Linked DNA regions of Homo sapiens. Each later gene encodes a partner of the first gene's protein in a complex. Each region holds a gene or a part of one and is shown on either strand. Other genes may lie near its edges.

Region 1 (7,164 bases):
ACCTCAGTGCGTTATATGTATTAAATGGAATAATCTATATAAAATGCTCAACATGTGCATGATACTTGTTAAACAATAAATGTGAGCAATTAAAAAAAAGTAAAGCCTGGTTGAAATAATCAGATGTCTGCATAATTTCTAACGCCTCATCCAATGAAACTTAAGTAATTTAAATAGTCGTGTTTTCTTTTTAAATCTCTTACAGAAATATTGTATCCACAGTGAATCTTGGTTGTAAACTTGACCTAAAGACCATTGCACTTCGTGCCCGAAACGCCGAATATAATCCCAAGGTTAGATCTATTTTAATGTATTTCTTTTTTTTTTCTTTTTTGTCTCCTCTGCCGTGTCTCTATATTTTAATGTATTTCACGCTATAAAACAAATGTCTGTAGATCAGGCCAGGCACAGTGGCTAATGCCTGTAATCCCAGCACTTTGGGAGGCTGAGGAAGGAGAATTTCTTGAACCTAGGAGTTCACCACCAGCCCAGGCAACATGGCAAGACCCTGTCTCTTAAAAAAAAAAAAAAAATTGGCCGGGCTTGGTGGCTCACACGTGTAATCCCAGCACTTTGGGAGGCCGAGGTGGGCGGATCATCTGAGGTCAGGAGTTCAAGACCATCCTGGCCAACATAGTGAAACCCCGTCTCTACTAAAAATACAAAAATTTGCCGGGAGTGGTGGCATGCGCCTGTAATCCCGGCTACTTGGGAGGCTGAGGCAGGAGAATCACTTGATCCTGGGAGGCAGAGGTTGCAGTGAGCGGAGATTGCGCCATTGCATTCCAGCCTGGCAACAGAGCGAGACTCCGCCTCAAAAAAAAAATCTGTATATCAAAGAGTTTGTGTTATGCTTATTCCTTGACACCAATAAAATGAAGATCTAAAGTAAAATGTGCATTGTTTTGTATCTTTTATTGAGTGTCTGTGATATAAGAATCCCTGGGAGTACAGCAGTCTATAAAATAAGCTAAGTTATATATGTATTGTATTGGGATCATGTGAAGAATTTTGTATATGTATAGGGATGATGTTAGCCAGCTATAGTAGGCAAAGTAATTTGGATAAACATTAGCTGGGTTGAGAGAAATGTTAAGTAATGGACTTAGGGTGCATTTTAAAATCCCTGAAACATAATGCCTGAGATCTGAAAGACAGCTAAGGGTCTGAAAATCACCTTTTAACCACTCATAATGAGTCTGTATGACATGTAGCATTCTAAGAATTAATCTTTCATCTATTATAATCACATTTAGTTGAATACATAATTTTATTACTTTACGTTCTTAAGTGATATTTAACCAATAAAAATAGTAGAGGAAATTCTGGAAATTCAAAATAGCTAGGCTTTTCCTGGGACGTATATAAACTACTATATACTGCTAGCTTTTTTAGATGTTGATAAAATCACAGGGAAGACATAGAGCAGGTTTTAAACTAAAATTGTTAAAAGCCAGGCATGGTGACTCAGACCTGTAATTCCAGCACTTTGGGAGGCCAAGGTGGGAGGATCACTTGAGGCCAACAGTTCAAGACGAGCCTGGGCAACATAGCAAGGCCTTGTTTCATCAGAAAATTTAAAAAATTATCTGGGGTTGGTGGCACACACCTATAATCCCAGCTACTTGGGAGGCCAAGACAGAAGGATCTCTTGAGCTCAGGAATTCGAGGCTGCAGTGAGCCATGATTGCACCACTGCACTCCAGTCTGGGCAACAAAGTGAGACTCTTGTCTCTAAAAAAAAAAATTAATAAAATAAAAAAATAAAATTGTTAAAGCAATCTAGTTTGTCAAAGAGTCGTCTTAATTAGAAACATGTAGGTTTTTATTGTATAATTAAATGTATTAAAATATTTAAGTTGTTTCAAAGTAATTATTTGCTTTTTATCATGTACCTAATAACTGAGGCCATTAATTCAACCCACAGTTGAAATATTTTCCCCTTGAGTTACCACCTTAGCAAGAAAATTTTCTGAAAGAATTAACATGTTTCAAGCATAAAAAGCAGAAAATAAAAGTTAAAACTGTGTTTTTTTCCTAATTTGCATTTATGTGTTTAATACATTAATATTGTTTCTAAAGACCAATTGAAAGCATGATTTTACTTCATTACGTATTGATAGGCTTGTAATCTGATTTATTAATTCCATTAAGGTAGAAAAGGTTTATTGGTTTATTTGCCTCAAAATTCATATTAATAAAACAAAATGTATCAGAGAAGCTATAGTCATGATAAGCAGCAAATATAAAGTAGAAACAGAAGCACTTGTATTTATTGAGAACATAACCAAATTTTGCAAACATTTCTCTTGATGGAATGCTCATGTGAAAGAACATACAGATTTGGTATAACTTAGTCACAATTGATTATTTTCTGCTCCTTATGCAAAGGAATATTTGTTACATGTGGTGTATGCAAATCCTTTACAGATATACAGAAATACAGAACAAATATTTTGATAACTAGATGTACTATGTCCTTCCTACCAGTTGTGATTTTTTTGTCAATGGGTGGTTCGCCTAACAACATTGAGCAGTTTGGCATGACCTCACTAATGATTCTCTCTGACCATTGTAGCGGTTTGCTGCGGTAATCATGAGGATAAGAGAGCCACGAACCACGGCACTGATTTTCAGTTCTGGGAAAATGGTGTGCACAGGAGCCAAGAGGTAGCCGTAAGAAATTCATTCTTCTGGTCTATGGGTTATGAATGAAAAGGTGATATCTCATTGTTTTTAGGTTATTAGGTTAGCACTTTAACATGTTATTATTGCTTTCTTATAAAAACCATTTTAATATGATTCTATTAATTATTTTTATTTATTTATTTATTATTTGATTCTATTAATGTTAGATAGCAGTGATTTCATTTTCTTAAAAATTAGATATGGGCAGGCGTGGTGTCTCACCAAGGCGGGCAAATCACTTGAGGCCAGGAGTTCGAGACCAGCCTGACCAACATGGTGAAACTCCATCTCTACTAAAAATACAAAAATTAGCCAGGCGTGGTAGTGGATGTCTGTAGTCCCAGCTACTTGGGAGGCTGAAGCACGAGAATCGCTTAAATCCGGGAGGTGGAGGTTGCAGTGAGCTGAGATCATGCTACTGTACTCCAGCATGGGAGACAGAACAAGACACTTTCTCCAGAAAAAAGAAAAAAATTAGGTAAGATGTAATACAACATCAGAACTATTAATAAAATTCCCTTTATGTGAAAAATGTTGTAAATAACACAAATACATCTTGAAATGGAAGAAAAAATTGATCAAGAATTAAAACACTTCTAAGCTAATGGTGTAAGGGCTTTGCAGACCTTATTGGGCCTGGCAGCGTGACAGCATCACATGTGTTGGCTGCAGAAACCTGCCTTCTCACTGGAACTAGCTTTCATTAATAGTGTTTGAGTTGTGCAGATCTTAAGGAATGCACCCTTGTTATAAAATGTCATTGCCTATATTCTCCATCTGAAGTGATCCTGTCTGAAGGTTAGTACTCTGCGGCCCTGACTGTTCTAAACAGAGCTTATATACTTGGTAGAAGTCAAAAACTAGGGGGAAAATTAGTGACATTAGCTTCATAAATGAACTGAACAAATAAACTAAAACTTTTTAAATGAAAGAGTATTAAATGTACTTGGAGGTATCAACACATAGAAGGGGGCTGTGGATATTTTTGCTTATTCTGAAGTTTGAAATTGTCTTTCAGTGATGGGAATGCCATTGGTGTGGACATTCTGGCTCCTGATCTCCGAGGTTTTTCAGAATGCAGGACAAGGATGTGTTCTTGCCTTTCACTTCCCCTTGGCCACAACATGCAGTAGTAACCTCTTTAATTAAGAGCGTTTTTGTTTGCTTGTTTTCCCCTGCATGGAACATCAGAAACTTTTGGTTTATCAAGGCAAGCTTTTCATGCAGCATTTAGCCTTTTTGTCCCAGAGCATCTGAAAACTGAATATTGTATATGTAGTTGGATGACTATTTCATCAAGACAAGAAACCACCAATACATTTACCTGAAATTTAAAAGCGTAGCATATATATATATGCTTGATTTTTGTTCTTCCTGATCCCCTGCACCTGATAGTCTCTTTATGGTAATATTTTCACATTCTTTTTTGTTGTTGTTGTTGTTTTTGAGATGGAGTCTCGCTCTGCGCCCAGGCTGGAGTGCAGTGGCATGATCTCGGCTCACTGCAAGCTCCGCCTCCTGGGTTCACGCCATTCTCTTGCCTCAGCCTCCCGAGTAGCAGAGACTACAGGTGCCCACCACCATGCCTGGCTAATTTTTGTATTTTTAGTAGAGATGGGGTTTCACTGTGTTAGCCAGGATGGTCTCAATCTCCTGACCTCATGATCCGCCTGCCTCAGCCTCCCAAAGTGTTGGGATTACAGGTGTGAGCCACCGTGCCCGACCTGCCTGCCTGCCTTTTTCTCTTTTATTTTTTCTTTTTTTCTCTTCTTTCTTTCTTTCCTTTTCTTTTTTTTTTTTTTTTTTTTTTTTTTTGGTGGAGTCACCTAGGCTGGAGTGCAGTGGCACAATCTTGGCTCACTGCAACCTCCACCTCCCAGGTTCAAGTGATTCTCCTGCCTCAGCCTCCCAAGTAGCTGGGATTGCAGGTGCCTGGCACCATGCCCAGCTAATTTTTGTATTTTTAGTAGAGATAGGGTTTCACCATGTTGACCAAGCTGGTCTCGAACTCTTGACCTCAGGTGAGCTATCCGCCTTGGCCTCCCAAAGTGCTTGGGATTAGAGGCGTGAGCCACCATGCCTGGCCCACATTCTGCTTTTCTTATGTAAGCTCTGAACTGCTAAGTCGTAGTTTATTCAACAAATGACATAGGAATGTCTATTCATGATGAGTCTTGGTATAAAAGAGGATAGAATTAGTGAATACATTGTTCAATAATAAATCTCATCAACATTTTCTGATCAAAATGAAGTTTGTTAGTTTTCCTCTCAGTAGAAATGCATGGGCTAAAATACAGAAATAGTGATGACTGATGATGGTGATAATTCACATCCATAAAATCTAGGGCTACAATAATTTGGCGGATTGAAAGGTCATTTTGGCAGGCCTACAGTTTTCTGTCAAGGATCCAGGAATACTTTATAAGGAATTGTGAATGCCTGTCAGTCTTTTCTCCTATTGCAAGAAGGCTGACCAGTTTACACTTTATTAGTTTACTGTTTTGGACTTTTTATAAGTTATTAGTCTAAATAAGTATTTTAGCTGGCTCTGAGTATGAATAACTCACTTTTTTCCTTTCCCTAGTGAAGAACAGTCCAGACTGGCAGCAAGAAAATATGCTAGAGTTGTACAGAAGTTGGGTTTTCCAGCTAAGTTCTTGGACTTCAAGATTCAGAATATGGTGGGGAGCTGTGATGTGAAGTTTCCTATAAGGTTAGAAGGCCTTGTGCTCACCCACCAACAATTTAGTAGGTAAGTCTGAAATGTATTATGATTGTTATTGGCAACAGTTCATTTATAATCTAAACATTGTTCAGAATAAAACACATGCAAAATATTCAGTATATGAGAACAGTTGACATGGTTATAGTTGTATGTATTCTTGCATTGTCTTCCTGATGTTCTCAGTCATATTTATCACCCTCACCAGCCTCTGCTTCCCTTATCACTTTGCGGTACCCATAACTCCCCTTTACTGGAATGAATTTGATTCTACTTCTGTATGTTTTATCGTTTTATTGCTGAATACACTTGGAATGCATGAATTGACCCTAACCTTGTATCAATTTTTTTTCCCAGTTTGGATCTTCTCTTTTAGTCAACATTGTGTCAGATCTACCAGCAAAGTGTGAAGTTGAGCGATAGGAACAACTTTCTAATTATCTTCCCTGCTACTTGCAGGTGAAGACTCACAGGCAGGCAGCCCTGCCCACCTCACTGCTTCATCTCATGGTCTTCTGGTGTCTGTTCACAGGCACATTAGTTCTGTGTGCCCCTGGGGCTCACTTGGTTCCTCCTGCCCTAGGCCTTTGCACTTGCCACTTTTATGCCTAGTATGCTCATTTCCCTTTTCACCTAGGAAGCTCCCACTTGAGTTCCATATGTCTACCCATTCCACTCTTCCTCAGAGAAGCCTGTCCTGAATTTTGTCTTAGGTCAGACACACAGAAACAGAGGCATCCTGTTTTCAGTCTCTCCGAACTGAGAAAAATGAGATTACTAGGCTTAGAAGAATATGTACCAGGCCTGGCCTGGTGGCTCACACCTGTAATCCCAGCATTTTGGGAGGCCGAGGCAGGCAGATCAGTTGAGTTCAGGAGTTCAAGACCAGCCTGGCCAACATGGTGAAACCTCGTCTTTACTAAAAATACAAAAATTAGCTGGACATGGTGGTGCATGCCTGTAATCCCAGTTACATGGGAGGCTGAGGCAGGACAATCATTCGAACCCAGGAGATGGAGGTTGCAGTGAGCCAAGATCGTGCCACTGTACTCCAGCCTGGGCGACACAGCAAGACTCCGTCTCAAAAAAAAAAAGAATATATACCAATAGTCCATTCAGTCAGACAGCTTAATCAGGTATAGGTTAATTCTCAGGCTAGTATATAAGTTTGATTAAATTTCCTGACCACAATTGTCAGCTAGAGAATATTTCAATTTAAGGAGGTAAGATATGATTAAAAGTTAAACTGTCAGTATTGGATCTTAGAAGTAAATGATTATTAGGACTGTAATAGTAATTATTAGGACTGTAAAAGTAAAGGATTATTATCTGCATTAGATATCATTATATCTAATGATATAGAGACTGCAGACATAACTACAGGGCTCTTTTTCTTAAATCAGAAAATCCAGATTCAATAGAAATAGGGTAAAGTGATAGGAGGACAAATAGCCTTCCATCCAGTGGTTATCAACTGACGACTACAAGTCGGCCTCACTTGCTTTAATTATTCTATTCTATCCTTTGATGCTGCTTGAAGAACTGTGTTTTACCTCTTGACTAGTTTGTTTATTCAGTATTTTTCCTTGTACAGGTCCTCATTTTATCTAAAAGCACACAAAGCTCTTGATTTCTAAACTTTTTGCAATTTTCCTTCTAGTTATGAGCCAGAGTTATTTCCTGGTTTAATCTACAGAATGATCAAACCCAGAATTGTTCTCCTTATTTTTGTTTCTGGAAAAGTTGTATTAACA
Region 2 (7,000 bases), on another chromosome or scaffold:
ATCGCTTGATCCCGGGAGGCGGAGGTTGCGGTGAGCCGAGATCGCGCCATTACACTCCACCCTGGGCAACAAGAGCAAAACTCCGTCTCAAAAAAAAAAAATAATAATTAGCTGGATGTGGTAGTGCACGCCTGTTGTCCCAGCTGTGTGGGAGACTGAGACAGGAAGATCACTTGAGCCCAGGAGGTCAAGGCTGCAGTGAGCTATATTCGTGGCACTGTACTCCAACCTTGAGACCTTGTCTCAAAAATTTGTTTAAAAATACATAAATAAATAAATGAGCATCCTGGGCCTTTCATAACAGTGTATACTCACAGGTTTGTATGTCTGTCTGTCACCTCAATTAGAGTATAGTCTCTTTGAGGGGTTGGACCCAGTATCCCCAACACCTAACACTGGTAGTGTGAAAGTTTGTTGAAGGATTAATGTGTTTGGGGTGGTGCGTGCATGTAGTCCTTACTACTGGGGAGGCTGATGCAGGAGGATCACAAGCCCAGGATTTCAAGACCAGCCTGGGCAATTTATTGAGACCCCCCCATCTCTTAAAAAAAACCCAAAAAACAAAAATCCAAATGAATGATTAATGTGTTGTGGTAGCCTGTTTAGTTTAGAGAATAGAATTCCTCTTAACAGTAAAATCTTGACGTAGGAATTGCTTTTCCCTCTGTTTTTTAACTTTTTTTTTTTTTTTTGAGACAGAGTCCCACTCTGTCACCCAGGCTGGAGTGCAGTGGCAAGATCTCAGCTCACTGCAACCTCTGCCTGCCAGGTTCAAGTGATTCTCCTGCCTCAGCCTCCCGAGTAGCTGGAATTACAGGTGTGCACCACCATGCCCGGCTAATATTTTGTATTTTTAGTAGGGACGGGGTTTTGCCATATTGGCTAGGCTGGTCTTGAACTCCTGACCTCAGTGATCTGCCCACCTCAGCCTCCCAAAGGGCTGGGATGGGCGCCCAGCCTGGTTTTTTTACCTTTTAAAAAGTGACTCTTAATTACGATTGGCCTTGCTGCTACATGATTTGATGAGTACGGGCCAAATTGACAGCTACGCCTCCCTTTAATTTTTTGCTCCTGAAATTCTACCACTGGGATTCCTACTACTAGTTAACCAGTGCCTTCTGTCCTTGACCAGGCATTCAGAATGCAGTAGGTGGTTTTGTTTGTTTGTTTGTTTGTTTGTTTGTTTCCAGACGGGGTCTCATTCTGTCTCCCAGGCTGGAGTGCATTGGCAGGAACATGGCTCACTGTAGCCTCGACTTCCCGGTCTCAAGCGATCCTCTCTCCTCACCCTCCTGAGTAGCTGGGACTACAGGCATGTGCCACCATGCCCGGCTATTTTTTTTTCCCCGAGATGAAGTCTTGCTCTGTTACCCAGGCTGGAGTGCAGTGGTGCAATCTTGGCTCACTGCAGCCTCCGCCTCCCGGGTTCAAGTGATTCTCCTGCCTCAGTCTCCCGAGTAGCTGGGATTACAGGTGCTTGCCACCAAACCCAGCTAATTTTTTTTTTTTTTTGTATTTTTAGTAGAGATGGGGTGGCTCAACATGTTGGCCGGGCTGGTCTTGAACTTATGACCTCAAGTGATCCCCCCTCCTTGGCCTTCCAAAATGCTGGGATCACAGGCATGAGCCACCGCGCCCGGCCCTAATTTTTATATTTTTAGTAGAGAAAAGGTTTTGCGATATTGCCCAGGCTGGTCTTGGGAACTTCTGAGCTCAAGCCATCTGCCTGTCTTGGCCTCCCAAAGTGCTAGGACTACAGGCCTGTGCCACCACACCTGGCCCTCGTTCAGTAGATATTTATTGAGCAGCTGCAATGTGCTAGGCAGTGTGGTAGGAGTGAGGATAAGCAGTGAACAAAAGAGACAAAAATTCCTACCCTCACAGAGTTTACATTTAGTGCATTGGAGATATAGTGGTTCAGGACGTAGACAAGAACTTGCTAAGGGCCCACTGTGCTTTAAAGCTTTTTTTTTTTTTTTTTTTTTGAGACAGAGTCTTGTTCTGTGGCCCAGGCTGGAGTGCAGTGGCGTGATCTCGGCTCACTGCAAGCTCCGCCTCCTGGGTTCACGCCATTCTCCTGGCTCAGCCTCCCGAGTAGCTGGGACTACAGGCGCCCACCACCACGCCCATCTAATTTTTTGTATTTTTAGTAGAGACGGGGTTTCACCGTGTTAGCCAGGATGGTCTCGATCTCCTGACCTCGTGATCTGCCTGCCTCGGCCTCCCAAAGTGCTGGGGTTACAGGCGTGAGCCACCACGCCCTGCCCAGCTTTAAAGCTTTAACTGGGTCTTCTGTTAATCTCATAATTATAAGGTGATAAACATTTAAGGCATATAGTGGTGCTCTGGATTTAATTTATGAATTGGGAATGTTAGCTTTGATTCATTTTTATGGAGCTAATGTTTTAAATTTTATTTCTTGTTAATATTTTCAGAAGATGAATTGAATCTTCTGGTTATTGTAGTTGATGCCAACCCAATTTGGTGGGGAAAGCAAGCATTAAAGGAATCTCAGGTAAGACTGCTTGAGGAGGCCTTTGGAGAATTCTGGTTTAACTGAGTGTTTATATTGCTTTTTTAAAAAATGGCTTTATTAAAGTATAATTTACATACTGTAATATTCAGCCACTGTACAATTCAGTGATTTTTTTTAAGTAAATTTGCGAAGTTGTGTAACCAGCCCCACATTTCTGCTTTAGAATATTTCTTTGACTGCGTAGCGTTCCCTCATGCCTGCTTGCAGTCAATCCCTGCTTCTATCTCCAAGCTGCAAGCAACCACTGATCTGCCCTCTATCTCTAAATTCCCTTTTCTGGACATTTCATGTATTGATTTCATACAATATGTGGTCTTAAAAAATACTTTCTATTTTGAAATATTTTATTTTTAAATAATATAGACATAGGAAACCAGAAAAGATACAGAGAGGTCCTGTGTACCCATCACTCAAGTTCTTTCAGTGGTGACATTTTACATAATGATAGTACAATTTTGAAACTATCAGTGCAATCTACAGACCTAAGCAGATTGCAGGTTTTACATGTGCTCACTTGTGTGTATGCGTGCGTGCGTGTATGTGTGTGGTTCTGTGCAGTTTTACCACATTCATTGATTTGTGTGTCCATCAGCACCACCATCTCATGCCTCAGCCTCCCGAGTACTTGGGACTACAGGTGCGTACCACCATGCTCAGCTAATTGTTTGTATTTTTAGTAGAGATGGGGTTTTGCCATGTTGGCCAGGCTGGTCTCGAACTCCTGGCCTCATGTGATCTGCCCGCTTTGGCTTCCTAAAGTGTTGGGATTATGGGAGTGAGCCACCGCACCTGGCTGATTCTTCATGTTTGTTCGTTTGTAATCTGGTCCCACTCTCGACCACACCTTCTTTGCCTGTCTGTACTCCCAGGCAACTCTTGATCTCTTTGTGTCACTGTAGATTAGTTTGGATTTTCTAGATTTTTTTCATGTAAATGGAATCAAACAGGTTATAGTGGGGAGGTTTTTGTGGCCTTTTTTTTTTTTTTTTGAGACGGAGTTTTGCTCTTGTTGCCCAGGCTAGAGTGCAATGGCGCGATCTCGGCTCACTGCAACCTTTGCCTCCTGGGTTCAAGTGATTCTCCTTCCTCAGCCTTCCGAGTAGCTGGGATTACAGGCATCCGTCACCACGCCCAGCTAATTTTTTGTATTTTTAGTAGAGTTGGAGTTTCACCATGTTGGCCAGGCTGATCTCGAACTCCTAAACTCAGGTGATCTGCCTACCTCGGCCTCCCAAAGTACTGGGATTACAGGCATGAGCCACTGTGCCTGGCCTTGTCTGTTCTTTTTAATGACAGGTTAGCTGTTTTCCACTTTTAAATGGTTTAAAATAAAATCAGAAGAATAACATTTTTGTGACTTGAAAATTATATGAAATTCAAATTTCTGGGTCTATAAATAAGCCTCACTCATAAATTTATGTATTTTCTGTGGCAGCTTTTGCATTACAAAAGCAGAGGTGGGTAGCAATAAAGATTGCATGGCTCAAAAAGCCTAAAATATTTACTATCTGGCCCTTCACAAAACAAGTTTACTGACCTCTGGCCGATTGTGTGGTCTGTTCTGGAGAATGTTGCATGTCTACTTGAAAAGAATGTGCATTCTTTTGTTTCTAGTGAAGTGTTCTATAAATGTCTATTAGTTTAAGTTGCGTGATAGCGCACCTATAGTCCCAGCTACTTGAGGCGCTGAGGTGGGAGGATCACTGGTGCCCAGGCGGTTGAGTCTGCAGTGAGCCATAACTATGCCACTGCACTCCAGCCTGGGAGACAGAGCAAGACCCCGTCTCAAAAAATATAAAATAAAAAAATAAAAAAATTATCGAGAATGGAATATTGAAATGAAGTATTGTTGTTGAATTGTGTATTTCTTTTTTTTTTTTGAAATGGAGTTTCGCTCTGTCACCCAGGTCGGAGTGCAGTGGTGTGATCTCTGCTCACTGCAACCTCTGCCTCCCGGTTCAAGCGATTCTTCTGCCTCAGTCTCCCAAGTAGCTGGGACCACAGGCGTGTACCACCACGCCTGGCTAATTTTTGTATTGTTAGTAGAGACGGGGCTTCGCCATGTTGGCCAGGCTGATCTTGAACTCCTGACCTCAAGTGATCTGCCTGCCTCGACCTCCCAAAGTGCTGGGGTTACAGGCATGAGCCACGTGTCTGCCCCCGTTTTTTTTTTTGTGTGTTTTTTTTTTGAGACAGAGTCTCACTCTGTCACCCAGGCTGGATAGCAGTGCTAGGATTACAAGTGTGAGCCACCATGCCCATTTCCCCATATTTTGATAGCAGCAGTTAGTGTACTCACATTTAATATAATTATTAGTGTGGTTGCGTTCATATCTGCTATTTTGTTATTTGTTTTCTGTATGTATCATGAATTTTTTGGTTCTTTGTCCTCCTTTACTGTCTTTTGTGTTAAATAAATATTTTTTACGTACTATATTAATTCTTCTGTTGATTTGATTAATTCTTCTGTATATTTTTAGTTTTTTTGTTTGTTTGTTTGTTTTTTGAGATGGAGTTTTGCTCTTGTCGCCCAGGCTAGAGTGCAATGGCACGATCTCGGCTCCCTGCAACCTCCATCTCCCTGGTTCAAGCAATTCTCCTGCCTCAGCCTCCCGAGTAGCTGGGATCACAGGCGCGTGCCACCATACCTGGCTAATTTTTGTATTTTTGGTAGTGACAGGGTTTCACCATATTGGTCAGGCTGATCTCTAATTCCTGACCTCAAGTGATCCTCCCGCCTCGGCCTCCCAAAGTGCTAGGATTACAGGCATGAGCCACTGCACCCAGCCTTCAGTTATTTTCTTTTTCTTTTCTTTTTTTTTTTGAGACAGAGTCTAGTTTTGTCGCCCAGGCTGGAGTGCATTGACATGATTTTGGCTTACTGCAACCTCTCTCTCCCGAGTTCAAGCAATTCTCCTGCCTCAGCCTCCCGAGTAGCTGGTATTTCAGGCATGCACCACCACACCCAGCTAATTTTTGTATTTTCAGTAGAGACGGGGTTTCGCCGTGTTGGCCAGGCTGGTCTCGATCTCTTGACCTCGTGATCCGCCCACCTCAGCCTCCCAAAGTGTTGGGATTACAGGCATGAGCCACCACACCTGGTCAATCTCTTCTTACTTGTGATTCTATTTCCAAAAAAGATCATGTACACATGTACCAGAAGTTAGGACTTGAACATATCTTTTGGGGGGACATAATTCGACCCACAACAGTTGCTGTAGGGATTACTGTATGTATCTTATCATTGTGTACTTTAGATTAATACTCATTTAATTCCAGTAAAATATAGAGGCTTTGCTCCAATATAGATCCACTTCCACCCCTTCCCCATGTTCTTATTGTCATACATATTACACCTGCGCATGTTATAAATCTGATAACGCAGTGTTATAATTGTTACTTACACAGTTGCTTACACCAAGTATAAGCATCTTTTCTCTTGTTAACAAAAAATAAAAATATCAGACAATATTCATGTTAGAACTACACTCATTTTTCAGCTGAAACCATACTCTTTTTTCTTTTTTTGAGATGGCGTCTTGCTCTGTCGCCCAGGCTGGAGTGCAGTGGTGCAATCTCGGCTTACCGCAATCTCCACCTCCCGGGTTCAAGCAATTCTGCCTCAGCCTCCCGAGTAGCTGGGACTACAGGCACACGTCACCATGCCCAGCTAATTTTTTGTGTGTGTATTTTAGTAGAGATGGGGTTTCACCATGTTGCCCAGGCTGGTTGCAAACTCCTGAGCTCAGGCAGTCTGCCCGCCTTGGCCTCCCAAAGTGCTGGGATTACAGGTGTGAGCTACTACGCCCGGCCCAACCATACTCATTTTTCAATTAGCTATGGATACAAGAATTCAGCAAAAATCAACATAGGCATTCTGTGAGAATCCATTGACTTATGCAATTTACTATAAAGAGTATTGTGCATTTTACTGTTATTTGTAAATTGTGTGCTACATACTGCTGTATCAGTAATATTCGTATGTACTTGTGTACATGGGTACCTCGGTTTTGGGGAGCGAATGGTTAAACATCCGCCAGCACATCACTGCATGCTGCCCTGTTACTCCAGAAAGGCTGCGTTTGCACTCATCAGTGCTGTATGAGAGTTCCTTTTTTCTTGTACCAACACAAAATGTTCATTCTCCTTATTTCATCTTTTGTCAATATGAGGCAAAAAACAACGTAATCTCAATTTGCTTCCAGTGTATTTCGTGGCCATTTGTATTTCTCTCTTGGGACATCACCCACTTCTTTCTTTGGATATTCATAGTGTGTGGTTTTTTTTAAATTAATGATTTATGGACAGTCTTTTATATTAAAGGATTAACCCATTACTTGCCATGTGTTGCAACTGGTTTTTTCCAGTTTGTAACTTGTTTTCTTTCACTTTTATTTATATTGTCACTTTTCGCCAATTAGAAATTTTAATAGATTTAAGTTTTTTTTCCAGTAGGGTGAAATT
Region 3 (7,000 bases), on another chromosome or scaffold:
TTAGACAGAAATTGGTTAAGGCAAAAATTTTACATTTTGGCAGTAATTTCTGCTTTGACAGATTATTTGGAAGCTCGGAAGTGAAATTCTATTTTATCATCCCAAAAGCAACATGGAGAGTTTCAATACTTTTGCTAACCGGATGAAAAATATTGGCGTCATGAATTATTTAAAGGTGAGAATATGGGCTTTGTGAATTTACACTTGCAGTATTCTTTTTTTTTTCTAATTGCTTGTGTCAGTGATAAGGTAGTTAACCTAAAAAATGTGGGACAAGGATAAGACATTCTGGATAAATAAGAGAAACTGAAAGAAAAGAGCGTTATGAGAACCATTTACTTCTTGATTTTCAGGCGCCTCCTGTGTTCTCTGACTAAAAATTCCTTTTCTTTGTATATTTCTTCTGGCTGCCAAAACCAGTTATTCAGAGATTGCAGTGGTATGATGATGGGCCAGATTCTAAAATGTTTGCTGAAGTCACTTGAGCTTAGAGTTGGTGTTTAGAAAAGGAAAGAGCTAAACAAGTTGGGAATTTAAATACGTGAAAATATTTTAATACTTCTAATGTTTAGGTGGAATCTTCACCTCCAAGTTCATATATCCTTTTGTAAAAGTCTTATCCAAAAAGATTGAGACATTTTCAAAATATTGTATCTCCCTCTCTATGTTTTTGTCTCAAAGAGCACTTTTTCAATACAGGTTTGTAAATGCTTTGCTTTAAAAAAATGTTTTGAGTGTCTATTTGTGTGCCAGATGCTCTTACGATTTTGTTCTCTGGTAGACCAGGTATACTGTGAGTGGAAATTAAATGGGGGCAGTTTACGGTTCTACTTAAGAAAAAGCTTTCTAACTAAACAATTGGAAATGGGAATGGCCTACCCTGATGTGTGCTCTGCGTCTCTTTTTTCAGGTCTAAACTGGATAGCCATTTAATTAGGGAGGGAGTGTGAAGAGTAAACTGTTGGTTAGGTCCCTTTTGGCTCATAGAATCTACTCAGTTGAAGTAAAGAAACTGAAAGGGAACCTCATTTCTCAATAAGAGTCTGAGAGTGATAATTAGGATAGATAATACAATTTTTTTTGTTGTTAATAATTTTAAAAACACTTATTGCCGCTTACCAGGCAATATGCTAGACATGGTTCTTATAGTAGAGGAAGATCATGTAAATGGAATGAAGTGTTATGGGTACCATAGTAGAAATGTAACAAATGGTGAGAAGATAAAGGAGAAAATGGCCAGTTCTCTGGAACTAGAGAGGGTTGGGATTTAATGGGTAGGGGAATCAGGAAAAGAATGAAAGTGATACTTGAGATAAGTTTGCAAAAGCAATTGGCCATTCACTAGGCAGATTAGGGGAAAGGGCAGCCCTGCATGGCGGGGGTTATAAAGAGTTTAAAAGCCCTACATCCAATAATTTAGTTACTCTAAAAATCACTTGGGTAGAAGTTGGGGGAAGTAGGCTGGGCCCTGTGTGCCATACCCAGGGAACTTGGATTTTAATTCTGTAGTCAGTGGGAGCCATTGAAGGAGTTTATGCAAATGACTAACAAGATGAAATTTCTTTGGTAGCCACTTGAAAGATGGATTGTAGGGAGGCAGGAATGGAGAGGCCAGTTGACAACTTATTGCAGTACTTTGGCTCTACCCATATGATTAATTGTAGTTCTCATTATTCTCCTCTTTAATGTCTTCCCTTTTTGTAATACTCATTCTTTGTATAATTTTTCTTCCTGCTTCTCCTGTATCAGGGATACACTTTCCTCTCCATCTGAACTGAAGCCATTCTTCAGCATCCCTTATTAAGATATTTTCTCTAAGCTTATATAACATGTATAAAATAGTAATATTTGTTGAATGTCTGCTATGAGCCAAACTATTAGGTGATTTGCAAGTATTATCTCATTTAATCTTGAAAACACCCTTCTGAAGGGGCAGTAATGTTCCGTAAAACAAATGAGACTCACAAAGAGTGAATAATTTACCCAGGTTTATTTAGTTTTTAAGTGGTGTATGAACCAAGACACTCATCTTCAAAACCTCTTTTTTCCCCACTATATCACACTGTCTTTTGTTTGTAAGTTTACATAATTTAGCTCATATTTACATAGTGTTAATTGTTTCCTATGTCTTACTTCTTTGCCAGATTGTACCCAACATCAAAATTTTCCATGTCAAGTTATTTGTATCCTACCAAGGTCTTTGCCCAGCATGTATTATATATTTACTGAGCTTTTTGACTAATGGTTATCTAATGGCTTAAATGGCGGTGTACCCTTATTATTTTTGCAGATCTCCTTACAACATGCATTATACCTTCTGCATCATGGAATGCTTAAAGATGCTAAGAGAAATCTGAGTGAGGCAGAGACATGGAGACATGGTGAAAATACGTCTTCCCGGGAAATATTAATCAACCTTATTCAGGCCTATAAAGGGCTTTTACAGTATTATACCTGGTCTGAAAAGAAGATGGAATTGTCAAAGCTTGGTAAGTGAATACAGGTAAACTTTTTCTTATGATGAGACTGAGGGGCAGAGGGATCTTAAGGAGTAATCTAGTAATTTCCCTATTGACTTCATCCAGATATTATGGAGAACAGACTTTTTATGGATTTAAAATTCTTGATCCTTTATAATATTTCTGATATATAAAAAGCTTCAATCATAAATTAGATGGTTCATAATTAAGTTCATGATCATTTTAGGTTCATTGCTGTTTTGAATGTGATTTAGTCCAGGATAAACACAGCCAGACACAGCAGTGGAGACAGGTTTGATTCAGTAACTACTGACAGGAGGAAGAGCTAAACTCCATTCCAATTTCTATGGAGGTGACTTGGGGTTGTAAAGGGTGGGGGTGGGGAGCTTAAAAAGCAGAAGGCAGAACCACCAGTAAATTCTTCTGGAGTTTTCCCAGGCAAACATTTCAAGAGGGGCTGGGGTCATCCTGGGGATGTGGCCTTGAGCTGTTAGAAACTATGTTAGTGTTCTAGAAACTATGTTCAAGTATTTATTGGCCAAGTTTGAGGCCTAGTCCAGAAGAGAGCTCAGAGGAGCCTGGCTGGAGTTTGGTCAAGAAGAAAGTCTTTGCCAATTTCTAAGAAAGGCTACAGATTTTCTTCAGCAGTCATTATTACATATAATAAACATTTCTTCCTGTGTGCCTAGAATGGAGTTTAATTTACTTTGTAATGTTATTTCTCAGAATAATATGTTTAAAGAATAGGTCAAGATGGTCATTTCATTTTTGTGTAAAGGTTATAATGGACAATTTTCTTGATTTATTGACTATACCAGAAGTTGACCATTCAGTTCTCAAACTGATTCCCCTTCTCTTAACCTTCAATGGTGTTATCATCTTCATTTATGCCCAGATTTGCATTCACTGGAACTGTATGATTCTTTGCAATTCGCTTGCCTTGTATAGTTTCTCCGTAGGGGATAATCCTCGAGATTAACCTAATCTCTATGATTAACCCCTTTCTGTTTTCATCCTCCTCCATATCTTAGTCCTACTATTTATCACTTCTTATGTGGTAAGCAGTATTTCCTTATTATCCTTATGTGATAAGTGGTATTTCCTTGGTCTCTGGGCATGTAGTTTCACTAATTTCGATTCCCTTCCCTCTTCTTTCAAGATACTCTGAAATGCTCTCTTCATCATGATAATCTTGTGAGGCCTTTGTAGAGTCTCCTCTTCTAGAATGCTCTCTATTCTTCAAGACTCATTGGATCGCTGTCCCAAACCCTCATTCTTACACCTTAAACTTAATATATCAGCTGCATGTTCAGCCTGAATCATTTGGCTATTCATCTCTTGCTTTCTAATTGTGCTAAGTTTTTTCATGTGTATTTTATTAGTCCAGATATCTTCCCGTTTAGACTAATCAATGTTTGATGTAATATTCCTCTATTTCTTTTGTTAGTCTTGTCATATTTTCTGGTGTAATAGTTCTTTTTCAAAACTTACTCATTGATTAGGTTAGTTTTAAAGTCAGTATTTACTTTTCTTCTTATACATGGTTAGGTAAAACTCAAGCAAATATCTGATGATTAAAGCTGTTGGAACATCGCATTTGTAATGTTACTCTTGTGGATAGATGGTTCAGTACCTTTCCGTAGCTGACAGTTCTGTAGCAACAATAGATGATGATGGGATAATATGTAGAGCTCTTAGATGATCATTCACCTCAAGTGTCTATTTAACGAGAAAAAAAGTTAGGACTAGTTCTTTATAACCAAACTCATGGGCACTTACCATGTGAACTTGTACTTGGAGTCAGCTTGGGACTTTCTTGCTGTTATGTGGCTCTGTCTTGGTTGGGATTGATGCACTTGGTGACTAGGAACCTCCTTCTATAATAAATTCAAACCCAATTTATACTCAGGGATCTGTCTCTTTCTCTTTGAGGCAGAGTCTTGCTGTCTCAGTCTGGAGTCTCTTGCTGTCAGGCTGGAGTGCAGTGGTGTGATCACGGCTCATTGCAGCCTCGACCTCCTGGGCTCAAGTGATCCTCCCACCTCAGCCTCCCAAGGACTTGGGACTACAGGTGTGCACCATCAATTTTTTTTTTTGTGAAGATGGGGTCTTACTGTGTTGCTTAGGCTGGTCTTGAACCCCTGGGCTCAAGCAATCCTCCTGCCTCAGCCTTCCAAACTGCTAGGATTACAGGCGTGAACCACCATGCCCAGCCCTTTTTTTAAAAAAAATTTTTTTCCATATAATGTCTTACCTACTTTCCTATCACCTCATTTCTAAGTTCATATTGATATGTATTTAACTGATCCACTGGGAAAAAGATACCAGTGCCTCTGTTTGGTTTGCAGTATCTTGTGCTTCTAATAGCTATTTTTGAAAGACTTGAGTAACTTTCTTTGTAAACCTTTAAGATTGAGAAATAGATACAGAAAAAGCATATAAAACAAATGTGAGATATAATGAATAAATTTAAAATGGACATTCACATAACCACCACCCAGATTAAGAAACACAAAATACTGTCACCCTAACCTAAAATTCTCCCTGTGTGCCTTCCTGACTGCATTTCCTCCCATTCTCTCTCAAGAAAATCCCTGTCCTGACTTATGTTAATCACTCACTGGTTTTTCTTTATACTCTTTCCACTCATGTATACATTTGTAAACAATGTGATTTAGTTTTGCCTATATCTGAATGCTGTATTTGGAGTTGTACTGTATATATTCTTTTAGGCCTTGCATATTTTGTTCAAAATCAGTTTTAAGATAATACATGTTATTGGATGTAGCTCTAATTTATTCATTTTTTATGGTTATAAAATATTTTATGATAGTCACACTATTCCTTCTATTACTGATGGCCATTTAGGTTACTATTTTGGGCTATTATAAATAATTCTGCTTTGAAATGAACCCCTATTAATTTCTGTATACCGGTGCACATAAGTATGCATTTCTAGGAGTAGAATTGTCATAGAATATGTTTTGTGCGTCTTTAACTTTGGTACATAATATACTAAACTCTTTCCAAAGAGGTTACCAATTTGTACTTTACCGACAATCTGATTAGAGTTTTCTTTTGTTTGTATTCTCCTCAACATTTGTTATTGTCAGAGTTTTCATATCAGCCAATTTGTTGGGTGTAGTGATCTCTCATGGTTTTTTTTCTTTATAGCTTTATTGAGAATTAAGATATAATTCACATACCATACAAATTCACCCACTTAAAATATACAACTCAGTGGTTTTTAGTATATTCATAGAGTTGTAACCATCAGTACAATATTAGAATATTTTCATGACCCTAAAAAGAAACCCTGTGCTCTCCCATTTCTCCCCACCCCTCCAGTCCTAGGCAACCACTAATCTGCTTTCTGCCTCTAGAGATTTGCCTGTTCTGGACATTTCATACAAATGGAATCATACAGTATGTGGTCTTCTTTTACTTAGCATAATTTTTTTTTTCCCTAACAGAAAATTTTGACAAAGAAAGCATAATGTTTTTAATGTTATAGCATGTAATGGTACTTCATTTCTATTACTGAATAGAATTCCATTGTTTGTATATACTATATCTTAGGTATCCATTCATCAGTTGATGAACAATTAGATTGTTTCTACTTTTGCCTATTTTGAATAACATTGCTGTGAACATTTATGTACAAGTTTTTGTATGGACATGTGTTTTTATTTCTCTTGGGTATATACCTAAGAGAGAAATTGCTGGGTCATATAACTCTAAGTTTATCCTTTTTAAGAACCACTGGACTGTTTTCCAAAGCAATTGCACTATTTTACATCCCCAGTAGCGGTGTATGAGGGTACAAATTTCTCCACATCCTCACCAACACTTGCCATTATCTGTCTTTTCTATTATAGTCATCCTGGTGGGTGTGAAATGGCATCTTGTAGTTTTGATTTGCATTTTCCTGGGTGTTAATGATGTTGAGCATCTTTTCATGTGCTTATGGGCCATTTGTATATCATTTTTGGAGAAATTTTCATTCAGATCTTTTGCTCATATTTTAATTACCTGCTTTTAGATTATTGAGTTTTGTAAGAGTACTTAGTTGTTCTAGACAGAATTCTCTTATCAGATATATCAGATTCATGACTTGGAAATATTTTCACCTTTTCTGTGTGTTTTCACTATCTTTTTATTTTATTTTACTATTATTATTTTTTGAGACGGAGTCTCACTCTGTCACCGAGGCAGGAGTGCAAGTGGCGCAATCTCAGCTCACTGCAACCTCTGGCTCCCAGGTTCAAGTGATTCTCCTGCCTCAGCCTCCCGAGTAGGTGGGATTAGAGGTGCCTGCCACCACGCCCAGCTAATTTTTGTGTTTTTAGTAGAAATGGGGTTTCACCATGTTGGCCAGGCTGGTCTCGAACTCCTGACCTCAAGTGATCTGCCCACCTCAGCCTCCCAAAGTGTTGGAATTACAGATGTGAGCCACTGTGCCTGGCCTTCTTTTCACTATCTTGATGGTGTCCTTTGAAGCATAAAAGTGTTTCATTTGA

What was found. Proteins that work in one complex are often made in the same cells at the same time.
Region 2: TBP (region 1) and GTF2H3 share a complex: the UniProt entries of both Homo sapiens proteins name them as parts of the TFIID-containing RNA polymerase II pre-initiation complex.
Region 3: TBP (region 1) and TAF1A share a complex: the UniProt entries of both Homo sapiens proteins name them as parts of the transcription factor SL1/TIF-IB complex.

What each region holds. Positions count from the first base shown.
Region 1 is NC_000006.12:170,564,340-170,571,503, forward strand, and holds part of TBP (TATA-box-binding protein), read left to right. Parts: intron 1-205; coding exon 206-293; intron 294-2,578; coding exon 2,579-2,670; intron 2,671-5,272; coding exon 5,273-5,440; intron 5,441-7,070; coding exon 7,071-7,164. UniProt on the Homo sapiens protein: The TFIID basal transcription factor complex plays a major role in the initiation of RNA polymerase II (Pol II)-dependent transcription.
Region 2 is NC_000012.12:123,636,829-123,643,828, forward strand, and holds part of GTF2H3 (general transcription factor IIH subunit 3), read left to right. Parts: intron 1-2,435; coding exon 2,436-2,515; intron 2,516-7,000. UniProt on the Homo sapiens protein: Component of the general transcription and DNA repair factor IIH (TFIIH) core complex, which is involved in general and transcription-coupled nucleotide excision repair (NER) of damaged DNA and, when complexed to CAK, in RNA transcription by RNA polymerase II.
Region 3 is NC_000001.11:222,572,934-222,579,933, reverse strand, and holds part of TAF1A (TATA box-binding protein-associated factor RNA polymerase I subunit A), read left to right. Parts: intron 1-43; exon of another isoform or gene 44-61; coding exon 62-175; intron 176-2,290; coding exon 2,291-2,489; intron 2,490-7,000. UniProt on the Homo sapiens protein: Component of the transcription factor SL1/TIF-IB complex, which is involved in the assembly of the PIC (pre-initiation complex) during RNA polymerase I-dependent transcription.